Linked DNA regions of Homo sapiens: region 2 is linked to region 1. Evidence: fine-mapped QTL for protein levels in blood plasma. Region 1 holds a variant in brackets. A gene starts in the other region. All regions are shown on their reverse strands.

The links. A credible set is the group of variants that fine-mapping cannot tell apart. PIP is the posterior inclusion probability: the model's chance that the variant is causal. The UK Biobank Pharma Proteomics Project read protein levels with antibody pairs (Olink). The fine-mapping took linkage between variants from a reference panel, not from the people measured, so its PIPs are less certain.
Region 2: it holds the start of TREH, and the variant in region 1 is the best candidate, but not a certain one, in a credible set for the plasma level of the TREH protein (UK Biobank, PIP 0.79).

What each region holds. Positions count from the first base shown.
Region 1 is chr15:43,525,735-43,531,098 of GRCh38, reverse strand. It overlaps MAP1A (microtubule associated protein 1A), which reads right to left. Exons shown (of 6, transcript NM_002373.6): 4 at 1,591-5,364; 5 at 1,229-1,449; 6 at 1-1,030. The coding sequence ends at 875. Among named protein-coding and RNA genes, the nearest start is that of MAP1A, 11 kb to the right of the region's middle. RefSeq lists enhancers at 770-1,270, 1,271-1,771, 2,753-3,385. The variant G/A (reference allele first, on the strand shown) is at 2,580.
Region 2 is chr11:118,676,725-118,682,088 of GRCh38, reverse strand. It overlaps TREH (trehalase), which reads left to right and starts at 2,439. Exons shown (of 15, transcript NM_007180.3): 1 at 2,439-2,550. The coding sequence starts at 2,462. RefSeq lists enhancers at 1,888-2,547, 2,548-3,209.

The sequences.
Region 1 (5,364 bases):
CTTATTTTTAACCCATTAAACACCAAGCCACAGCAGATGACCACATGCAGAGAAGCCAAGCAGGGGATGAGAAGGGATCAGGATAATTGAAATGGGGTGAGTAAAAACTTCAAAGAGTCAGGGAGTTTGGAAGAATTCTGGCATTGGGGCTTGGGCTCTCCTTGCCGTTTTGTGCTGTCTGGACACAGCCCTGGGATGTGAATGGTATAAAGCAGGGTCTGGGGGATAAGCTCCTTTCTCCTCTCACCAGTCTATTGGTCTAAAGAGCTTCAAGTTTTAAATTGAGACATTCAGATACTGAGGGAAGCAGTAGAACAGTATAGCAGTGGGATACCCCCAGGACCCTGCTAGAACTCAGACCCTGGTGGTTGAGGAGATGGGGGATGGGAAATGGAGGAAAGGGTGCAGCTCTGGGCACCTCACTGACGGTATCCTGCCCCAGGTCACATAAATTACTATTGGAAATCCCTCCCAGGATGCCAAATAAATAGATTGAGATAAAGAGGTCCCTGGAGTTGGGGATATAATCTCCCTCTACGAGGGAGGAGGTTGCTCTCTGAGACCCATCCTCAGTCCCCATTCAATACCAGCATTTGACAGTGCTAGGAGAGGGTTCTCAGGCATCAGATGCTATCCTATTCTAATTTGTCCCCTCCCCCATCCTCTCCCTGTTAACTTTGGTTTGAGACACCTCACAGGAATGGATGATGGGGAGGGACAACCCCTCCCATTTAGCCCAGCCCAAGTCCCCACAACAAGACATCTCCCTCCCCTCCCCCTAGCTCCCATCTCCCTCAACCCCAAAGGACTCAGCAGTAGCCATTCTCTAAAGGAGCTGGGGGAGTGGATCCTTGGGGAAGGGAGGGCGGCTCTTTCAGAACTCAATCTTGCAGGCAGGGAAGGACTCATCCTGCATCACCACGGTGCTGCTGCTAGCCAGGACCAGGACATTCAGTTGTTGCTGCTGCTCATGAGTTTGTTGGTACCACTCACGAGTCACCTCCGTGTCATGAGTAGGGATCAGAGTCACCTAGAAGGGAGATAAGATATGTCTGATGTGAGAACATAAAGGGAAGGTAGGTGAGGGGGAAGGGGCACCTCATGGTCTCAGAAGCAGCTCTGCTGCCCTTAGAAAAGGCCCATCCTTTAATAAATAGGGACTGTGTTCCACTACTGCCTCTGAGTGAGCGTTGACCAGACTACTTCCTTGGTGTCCTTTGCTACTCACCTGAAGATTCTCCCCCCACTGGGCCTTGCCCTCCAGCAGGGCATCCAGCACAGCCCGGCTTGGCTCGCCATTGGCAGGGTCATTCCCACTGACCACATAGTAGGATGCACGCACTCGACGGAAGAAGTCAAGGTCAGCAGTCTTGCCACTGCAATGATTCGGGATGTAGGCGAGATCCACATATACAGGGGCACCAGAGCTGCCCTTGGAACTCAAGGCCACTGTAGAGACAAGCCAGGATTCATTGTAGAGGAAAAGTAGAACCCTTTTGGCAACCTTCCCCTCTGTCCCACTCCTGAAGTCTGACCAGCCCACACCCAGCCCTAACCCACACTCTCTGCCAAGTTTCATGATATACTTACTTGGTCCTGCCTTGAGTCCATTGACTAGGCCTTTGGACATGGGGCTGTGTCCATCCTTTTCCTCTGCTGGGGTGACCTGGCTTGTGGTGCTGCGTGGTCGAGGTGGGGCCCGGGATGCTCGATCTGCAGGCCCTTTACCAGGGGTGGGTGAGCGTTTTCCCCGAAGATCCAGACGCCGTGCAGGGGACGCTGGCTTGGCCTTGCCTGGGGCCCTGCGCCCTACTCGCCCCTGAACCTTTTCCTTCTCCCGTAGCCTCTCTACTCTCCCAGACTCTGAGCTGAGCCCCTCGGGGTCAGCCATGCACACATCAGGGCGGGGAGGGGATGGGCGGGGGTCTGGCTGTGGGAGAGGAGGTGGGTCATGGCCAGGCCTGGGGTGGTGAGTACCACTGACACCCCCAGCTTTGTCCACAGGTAGGAAGTCTCCATCTTCATCTGAGTCGAGGGCTGCCTCAGCTGTGATGGACGGACACTCCTCAGTTTCTGGCGGGACATCAGAATCTGACTGTGAGGAGCCTGAGTCACTGGCTGATGTAGGGGGTGTCTCATCAGTCACAGGGCATGGGCCCCCAGTGGTCCCTGGCCCCCCTACCCGGCGCCGCCCCCCTCTTCCTACTAGCCGAACTTCCTCAGTTGAGAGGTCCCTATCATCTATGGATGGGGGCAGAGGTGGGTTCAGGAAGGATGGGGAGAGCTCCCCACGATGGGGCCGAGGCTCAGTGGCACATCCCTGGGGCCCAGCTTCGACCTCAGGAGAGGCACTGCTGGGTGGGCCCCCGGAGCCCCCTGCAGGACACACTGGCTGCTCAGGGGAGAGCAATGTGTCAGGCCGGGAGCTCCTCTCAGCTCCTTCAGGCCAGGCCCCACGTTCCCAGGCAGGGCAAGCCGCAGCCTCTTCATTTTCAGCCTTGGCTGGGGCAGGGCCTGGGGGGTTAGGGCTGGTTTCAGTTGGGCCATTGGCTGCACAATCCTCAGAGGGAACCTGGAAG[G/A]GGCTTGGCTTCTCCGTGGCTGCCTCTGAGCACTCCAGGTGGCACGGCAGGATGCCATCACCCATGTCTCCAGGCAGGCTTGGAGCTGGAGCTAGGGCCAAGTCCAGTGAAGCTGGGGGTGCTGGGCTCAGAGGAGTGAGGTCCCAGAGGCTGTGGGCAGCTGGTTCCATTCCTGGGTCCAGCTCTCCAGACTCCTGTTCTGCAGCCTCAAGGCTTGGAGAGAAGCGCTCCGCCACACTTGAAATCACAGGCGTGGTAGCCTCAGAGGAGGAGCCCTCAGACAGGGCTGGTGAGGCAGGTCGTGGCAGATTGGAGAGGAGAGGGGCCCCAGGAGAACTGGGTGATGGGAGCTGGGGCAGTGAGGAATCCAGGCTGGGGGCCTTGGTCACTTCCAGGTATTCATCATGCCGGGTTCTGGTGGGGGGTCCTGGAGCCAGAGCCAGAGCTCGATCCCCAGAGAAGGCAAGGGAGCCACAGGGTGCCGAGCGGGGTTCAGCTGGAGAGGGCAGCTGTGGGGGAGCTGGCTGCAATGAGGAGAAGCCAAAGGCTGAAGCAGGGAAGTCCAGACTGGGTCGGGCAGGCCCCAGGTGTGAGTCCAAGGGAGGGCTAACATGTGCCTCAGTTTCTGGCCATAATGTGGGGGACCCCATAGGAATGGGGTGAGGAGGACTTGGGGATTGGGCCTCTTTTTCTGGCTGTTCCCGAGCCCCCTTCTCCAGTTCTGAGTCACTAGTGCTGTCATCCCAGTGACTCCGGCCTGATTCCTTGGGGGATGGGGACCTCCTATCTGGGCTGCAGCTCAGGATGTTACCATTAAGAGGGGGGCTTGGGCCTTTGCTCAGGATAGGAGCACGGGGGGGAACTGCAGGTGGGGTGAGGCTGGGCTCCATACTTGGCCCTGGCTCTGGCCTTGGGGGTACAGTGGGTCCTGCCAGGGCTGCATAGCTGAAGGTTGGAGTGTCAGACTGGAGGCTCTTGGGTGAGATAGGAGATGAAAGCTCCTTCTCTGCAGATGTGTTTCGGCCGGCAGCTGCCTCCTTGGTTGAGAGGCATGGGGGCCAATCCCCAGCTGCTCCAAGTGGAGGCTCTCTAGTGGGGCATGCAGGGCCAAGCCCAGTAAGCATCATCTGCTCATAGATGTCTGCATACTGAAAGCTTCTCTCATCAGGATAGGGTGTGGGCTCTCTCTGCTCCGGCTCAGTCTGCTCAGGCTCCGTGGTGGCATGGCTTTTGCTGGCCTCTGGTACCTTTGAGCTGTGTGAGCTTTTGTCAGGAGCCTCAGCCCTACCTTCTTCTTCCCTTTCCCCTTCAGCCTTGCGGTAGTCCTTCCCCAGGGGGGAGTATGGCCCACCTTCCAACTCAGCTGCCCCCTCCTGCACTGCAGCCACCACACTGTCATACTCGGCTGTGCCCCAAGAGAAGGGTGCAGGAGTATGGGATTCCGGGGCAGGTGTGGGGGGACCAGGAGCTGGGGAGAGGGGTGCAGGGGGGAGGGGTCTGTCCTTGGGCACCCAGGGTGGGATGTCAGCCAGCCATGAGGGAGTAGTGGGTTCATTCTTCATGTGTGGCATGAGCTTAGGGTCTGGGATAGGACTCTCTTGTCCTGGGGCTGAAGGAACCCTTTGTCCAACCATCTCAGGTGGGGAAGCTGGAGGGGAGATGATCTCAAAGGGAGAGCGGGTCAGTTTGTCCTCTTCCTCTGGTGGCAACCCAACTGGTGATTCAGCAAGCCAGCGCTCCACCTCTAGCCCCTTCTGTGGTGAGGATTCCTGGAAATCCTTGAAGTCTGAGGCCCAGGGGCTCCGGGTTGCGTGTTCCCGCAGGGGTACTTCTTGCTCATCATCTGGGCCCTCATCTAGGAAAGTGCTTTCCCGTTCCTCAGTGTAGTGTGGGCGGGCCCCCTGGCCATCCAGCTCGTGAGGGAACCAGACCTTCCGCTCACAGCTTAGCTCCCTCCAGTATGTGTCCTGTTCCAAGGCCACATCCTCTCTGCCCCTCCAATACCTATTGTCCTGCTCAGGAGATGTGTCCTCCCATGCCGGGGCAAGCTCTTTCTGTTCTCCAGCCGGCTCCTCTCTGGTAGGAGATGTTTCTTGCCACTCCTGGACCACATCCTGCCCCCTCCAGTACTTTTCTTCCTGCTCTCTGGCCCTGCCCTCCTGCACTAGGCTCTCTTCCAGGCCCAGAGCTTTGGTCTTCTCCAGAAGAGCTTCTAACTTCTCTTCCATGGCCTTGACCTTTTCTGGGGATTTTTCCTCTAGCATCTTTGGTTTCCTGGTTTTATCCTCCTGCACTAGGCTCTCCTGCTCCTGAGTTTGGTGGTTCTCTTCCAGAGCCTGAATGTTTTGTTCCAGGGCTTCATCCTTCTGTCCCAAAGCCCAGTATTTTTGTTCTAAGGCCTGATCCTTCTTTTCTGAGACTTTATCCTTTTGTTCCTGGGCCTGGTGTTTCTGTTCAGGGGCTTTGTCTGTCTGTTCTAGGTCTCTGTCCTTCATTTCAGCGACCGTGTCCTCCGGAGCCTTATGTTCAACACTTCTGACTTTTTGATCTAAGGCTTTGTCTTTCTCTTCTGGGATCTTCTCCTTCTGTTCTAGGACCCTGTCCTTTTGTTCCAAGTCTTTATCTTTTGGTTCCAGGGCCTTGTCCTTCTGTTCCAGGGCTGTATCCTTTTGTTCTAAGGCTTTGTCTTTCTCTTCTGGAATCTTATCCTTCTGTTCCAGGGCCTTGTCTTTTTCTTCTAAGTCTTTGTCTTTTGGTTCCAGGGCCTTGTCCTTCTGTTCTAGGG
Region 2 (5,364 bases), not on the chromosome of region 1:
TCTACAAAAAAATTTAAAAATTACCCAGGCGTGGTGGCATGCACCTGTAGTCCTGGCTACTCAGAAGGTTGAGGCCAGATGACCACTTGAGCCCCAGGAAGTCGAGGTTGTGGTGAGCTGTGTTCATGCCACTGTATTCCAGCCTGCTGGGTGATGGAGCAAGACTATGTGTCCAAAAAAAAAAAAAAACAAAACAAAACAAGGAAAGAAAATTACAGTCAAATATGCTCTATACATATTGATGCAAAATTCCTCAAAAAAATACTCGCAAGCCAAAACCAACAGTTTATTAAAAGGATTAGACATCATGACCAAGTGAGATTTATCCAAAGAATGCAAGGGTGGTTGCACAGCATTGTGAATGTAATAAAAGGAAATTGAATTGTACACTTAAAAATTGTTGACCAGGCATGGTGGCTCACACCTGTAATCCCAATACATTGGGAGGATGAGGCAGGAGGATTGCTTGAGCTCAGGAGTTCCACACCAGCCTGGACAACATAGGGAGACCCAATCTCTAAAAAAAAAAAAATTATTTTTAATTTAAAAATTAGTTGGGCGTGGTGGCATGTGCCTGTGGTCCCAGCTGCTCAGGAGGCTGAGGTGGGAGAATCCCTTAAACCTGAGAGATCAAGGCTGCAGTGAGCTGTGATGGAGCCACTGCATGCCAGCCTGGGCAACAGAGCGAGACCCTGTCTCAAAAAACAAAGCAAACAAAAAAAACAATGCCAGCTGCCCACATTACTGGGTGGAGCTATCTGAACCTTTACTAGTTCAGAGTGGTGCCTGATTCATGAGTCATTTCTTTGCTTGAATAAATGGTTAAATTTAATTTGTCTAAGGTTTTTCTTTTTAATAGCAGTAAACACTGCTCAGGTGCCACAACTGACATCCTTAACTGCAAACCTAAGTCCTTCAGGAGAGGTCATGCCTATCATTAAACTCCATGTGCCTTGCCCACCCCCTGTCCCCTGTCCCTTCAGCTCACCTTCCATATGTTGAGGGGATGAGCCTCCTAAAGTAACCGAATCTGCTTTTTTTTTTTTTTTTTTTTTTTTGAGACAGAGACTTACTCTGTCGCCCAGGCTGGAGTGCAGTGGCATGATCTCGGCTCACTACAACCTCTGTCTCCCGAGTTCAAGCGATTCTCCCACCTCAGCCTCCTGAGGAGCTGGGATTACAGGTACCCGCCATCATGCCCAGCTAATTTTTGTATTTTTGTAGAGACGGGGTTTCACCATGTTGGCCAGGCTGGTCTTGAACTCCTGACCTCAGGTGATCCACCCGCCTCGGCCTCCCAAAGTGGTGGGATTACAGGCATGAGCCACTGCACCCAGCCTGAATCTGCTTCTTAAGCTCACAAACTTCTCTGCTGGTTCCACTTTGGGGAATTACAAGGAATTACATTCCTTGGCTTGGCAAAGACCATTTCCAGACTGGTGCCAACATGTTCCTCCAGTCTATCTCAAAACCCTTCCCTGCATGAACACCAAGTTCTCTGCAGCTAGGCTGAGGGGTTTGCTCTTCTCTTCACATGCTCTGCATACATTGTAGTGGTCTCCAGCCCATTTCCCTTGGCAAACTCCTATGCGGTCATCAAGACTCATTAGGACTGGCGCAGTGGCTCACGCCTGTAATCCCAGCACTTTGGGAGGCCAAGGCGAGCAGATCATGAGGTCAAGAGATTGAGACCATCCTGGCCAACACAGTGAAACCCCGTCTCTACTAAAAATACAAAAATTAGCTGGGCGTGGTGGCGGGCACCTGTAGTCCCAGCTATTCAGGATGCTGAGGCAGGAGAATTGCTTGAACCCGGGAGGCGGAGGTGGCAGTGAGCTGAGATCACGCCACTGCACTCCAGCCTAGCGACAGAGTGAGACTCAGTCTCAAAAAAAAAAAAAAAAAGACTCATTACAAATGACACACTATTGTGGGTCTCCCTTAGTCCTCCCCAGACAGAATGGTTCTACTGTCCTGTGCTTCCGCTGTATCTCTTGCAGATAACAGTGAGAGGCCCTGAATTTCACACCACACCAGGGACAGGATCTTGAGCCATTCCATTTGAAATGTTAAGGGAAATGGTAACTCTCTGAGGTTGGTGGTCTTGGGGCCACCCAAGGAACCTGGCATCCAGGTTACAGGTGTGTGGCCTCGACTGTGTCCCTGGCCTTTGGGTGCCCACTCCCCACCCCCACCACCATGCTCTGAGGGAAGGGCCTGAGCCATTGGCACCAGCTGAGACTGTGAAATAGAAGAGGCAAAGTAGAAGCAAGGGAGGTGGCCACTGTGCCCTGAGAGCAGGAGGGGCAAGCGGGCCACACACAGACCAAGCACACGTCCCCTCAGGTGGCCACGCCTCAAAGGCTGGACTTTGGCCGACTTGGACAGGCAGGTGAGCCAGGCTGTGCCCAGCAAGCCGAAGGTGCCTGGGCTTGCTCATTCAGTCACAGTCACAGCCACCATGCCAGGGAGGACCTGGGAGCTGTGCCTGCTACTGCTGCTGGGGCTGGGACTGGGGTCCCAGGAGGCCCTACCCCCACCCTGTGAGAGGTAGGGGTGTGGGGAAGGCAGCAGGGGAGGATGGCAATAAGAGGGAGGCTGGGATGAGATCTCAAGCTCTGGGGTCGGTACTTCAGAGGGAAAGGAAGAGATTATAAAGGAAGGAAAGAGTAGGGAAGAGAAGAAAATGAGAATTCCTATGTAGCAGGCTCTGTGCTGGGCACTGCACCTGCAGTCCGTTTTTTTTGTTGTTGTTGTTAGAGTCTTGCTCGGTCGTCCAGATGGAGTACAGTGGCACCATCTCCACTCACTGCAGCCTAGACCTCCCGGGTTCGAGAGATTCTCGTGCCTCAGCCTCCTGAGTAGCTGGAATCACAGGCATGCACCACCACGCCCAGCCTGTCATTGATTTTTACCAAAATTTTCCACCGTTGGAAGGGACATTAGGCTTGGCGACTGTGCTGGGAATACAAGCGTGAGCCACCGCCCCCTGTCGGGACCTGCAGTCCTGATACCAGACGCAGCTGCCAGAGCCTGGCCTGAGGTCCAAGAGCCTGCTGGCCAGAGCCCGCCCTCCCTTCCTCTCCTCCTCCAAGCTGCCCCTTGAACTGTGCAGGCCTCTTCTCAGGATTGTTCTAGCAAACTTTCTGCTCCAGCTTCCTAGTCTGGGTGTGAGAGGCAGCCTAAGGGCCTGAAGACAGCACTTGGGCTTGAGCCCTGACCCTCATATTCTCTCTGTGACCCAGGGCAGGTCAAGGCTCTTTCCTGAGCCTGAGTTTCCATCACCAGGGACAGAGATGAGTGACCCTGTCCTGTCTCCTGGACTCAGGCGATGTCCACCCTTCGTTCCACATGGATTTATGGAGCTGTGGCCACATCAGCCACTTTACCAGCTCCTGCAAGAACAATAATAATAGAAGAAAAACAGCTGGGCACGGTGGCTCATGCCTGTAATCCCAGCACTTTGGGAGGCCAAGGTGGGAGCTATCATCTGAGGTCAGGAGTTCGAGACCAGCCTGGCCAACATGGTGAAACCCCATCTCTATGAAAAATACAAAATTAGCCGGGCATGGTGGCGCACGCCTGTAATCCCAGCTACTCGGGAGGCTGAGGCAGGAGAGTCGCTTGAACTTGGGATGTGGAGGTTGCAGTGAGCCAAGATCATGCCATTGCACTCCAGTCGGGGCAACAAGAGCAAAACTCTATCTCAAATAATAATAATAATAATAATAGAAGCAAAACAGTAACAGAAGCACAGTTTGAAGTAGAGAGAAGTTAGGGCCCGCTGGTGTGGGTGAGCAGAGGGTGTGTTAGAGAGGATGGGGAGGGACGGTGTCTCTGAGGAGGTGATGTGTAAGCAGAATTGTGGCAGGAACCATTGCTGAGCTGATCTGGGAGAGGACAGTCCAGGCATGGAAAGGGCCATGCAGAGGCCCTGACGCACTGTTCAGGGATTGGGACGAAGGCCTGTGTGATTGGGGCAGAGTGGGAACAGGTCCGGGGAGAGCGGGGCTCCAGGCAACAAGGTTTGGGCTTGGGTTCCAGTGGTTAGACTAGAGACAGAGACAAGGGGTTCAATAGAGGGTGTGTGTTACAGGGAGAGTTGACAGTGCTTGCCCATGACAATTGTGGAATATAAAGGGGAAAAGTGTACCTGGGATAATTAATAGGTTTTGTCCTGAGCAATTGTAATGAGGACTTCAGAGAGGCTGGGTGGTCCAGTGCTTTGTCAAGCATTAGGCTGTTTGCCAAATGTAGGGGAAGATGACTTTACTGGTGTTCCCTAAGACCAACCTCAGGCCAGTGATTCACTAACACTTCCAAATGGTTATACCATGATTATGGTTTCATTTTTTTTCTTTTTTTGAGACAGAGTCTCGCTCTGTCGCCAGGTTGGAGTGCAGTGGTGCAATCTCGGCTCGCTGCAACCTCCACCTTCTGGGTTCAAGCGATTCTCCTGCCTCAGCCTCCCCAGTAGCTGGGACTACAGGCACCTGCCACCACGCCCAGCTAATTTTTGTATTTTTAGTAGAGACAGAGGTGTTGCCATGTTGGCAAGAATGGTCTCAATCTCTTGTCCTTGTGATCCGCCTGCCTCAGCCTCCCAAAGTGCTGGGATTACAGGCATGAACCACCGTGCCCAGCCTTGATTATGGTTTCTTACAGTGAAAAGATACATGTTAAAGCCATCAAAGGTGAAATATTCTAGGGCCAAGTCCAGGAGAAAATAATCTCAATCTTCCAGTTTTTCCTCTCCCAGTGGATTTATATGGACAGGACTTGATTTTTCCAGCAATAACATGTGACAGCACGCATGAAGTATTGCCAATCACAAAAGCTCACCTGAGTCTTGGTGTCCAGTGTTTTTATTGGAGGTCAGTGATGAAAGCGTGGACTACCTGTGTGGCTGACCTCAGTTACTCACTCTCCAGAGTTCAAACTGATACTGGGCGGCCAAAGGCCCCTGCCACAAATCACATTATTAGCATCAAATATCTGGCATGGCCCAAGGCCCCAGAAAAACAAAGACTTATCAGGCAGCATATTTTGGTAATTTAAATCTCATCTCTCAGGGCTGGTCACAGGCCAGAATTTTCTCTGAAATGTGCAGGGTTTGAACACAGCAGACCTGCTGAGTCAATCCTTTCATGTATAAGCCACTTCTTGTATAATGAGGAATTAGTTTCATTTTTGTCTTGGGTTCCTCCAAAGTAACCTCTAAGCTCCTTGGAATCTCCCAAGTGATAGGAATGTCTGTTATTAATAGTGGTCCCTGATTAGTGTTTTTTTGTTGTTGTTTTTTTCTTTCTTTTTTTTTTTGAGACAGCAATCTAGCTCTGTTGCCCAGGCTGGCAGTGCAGTGGT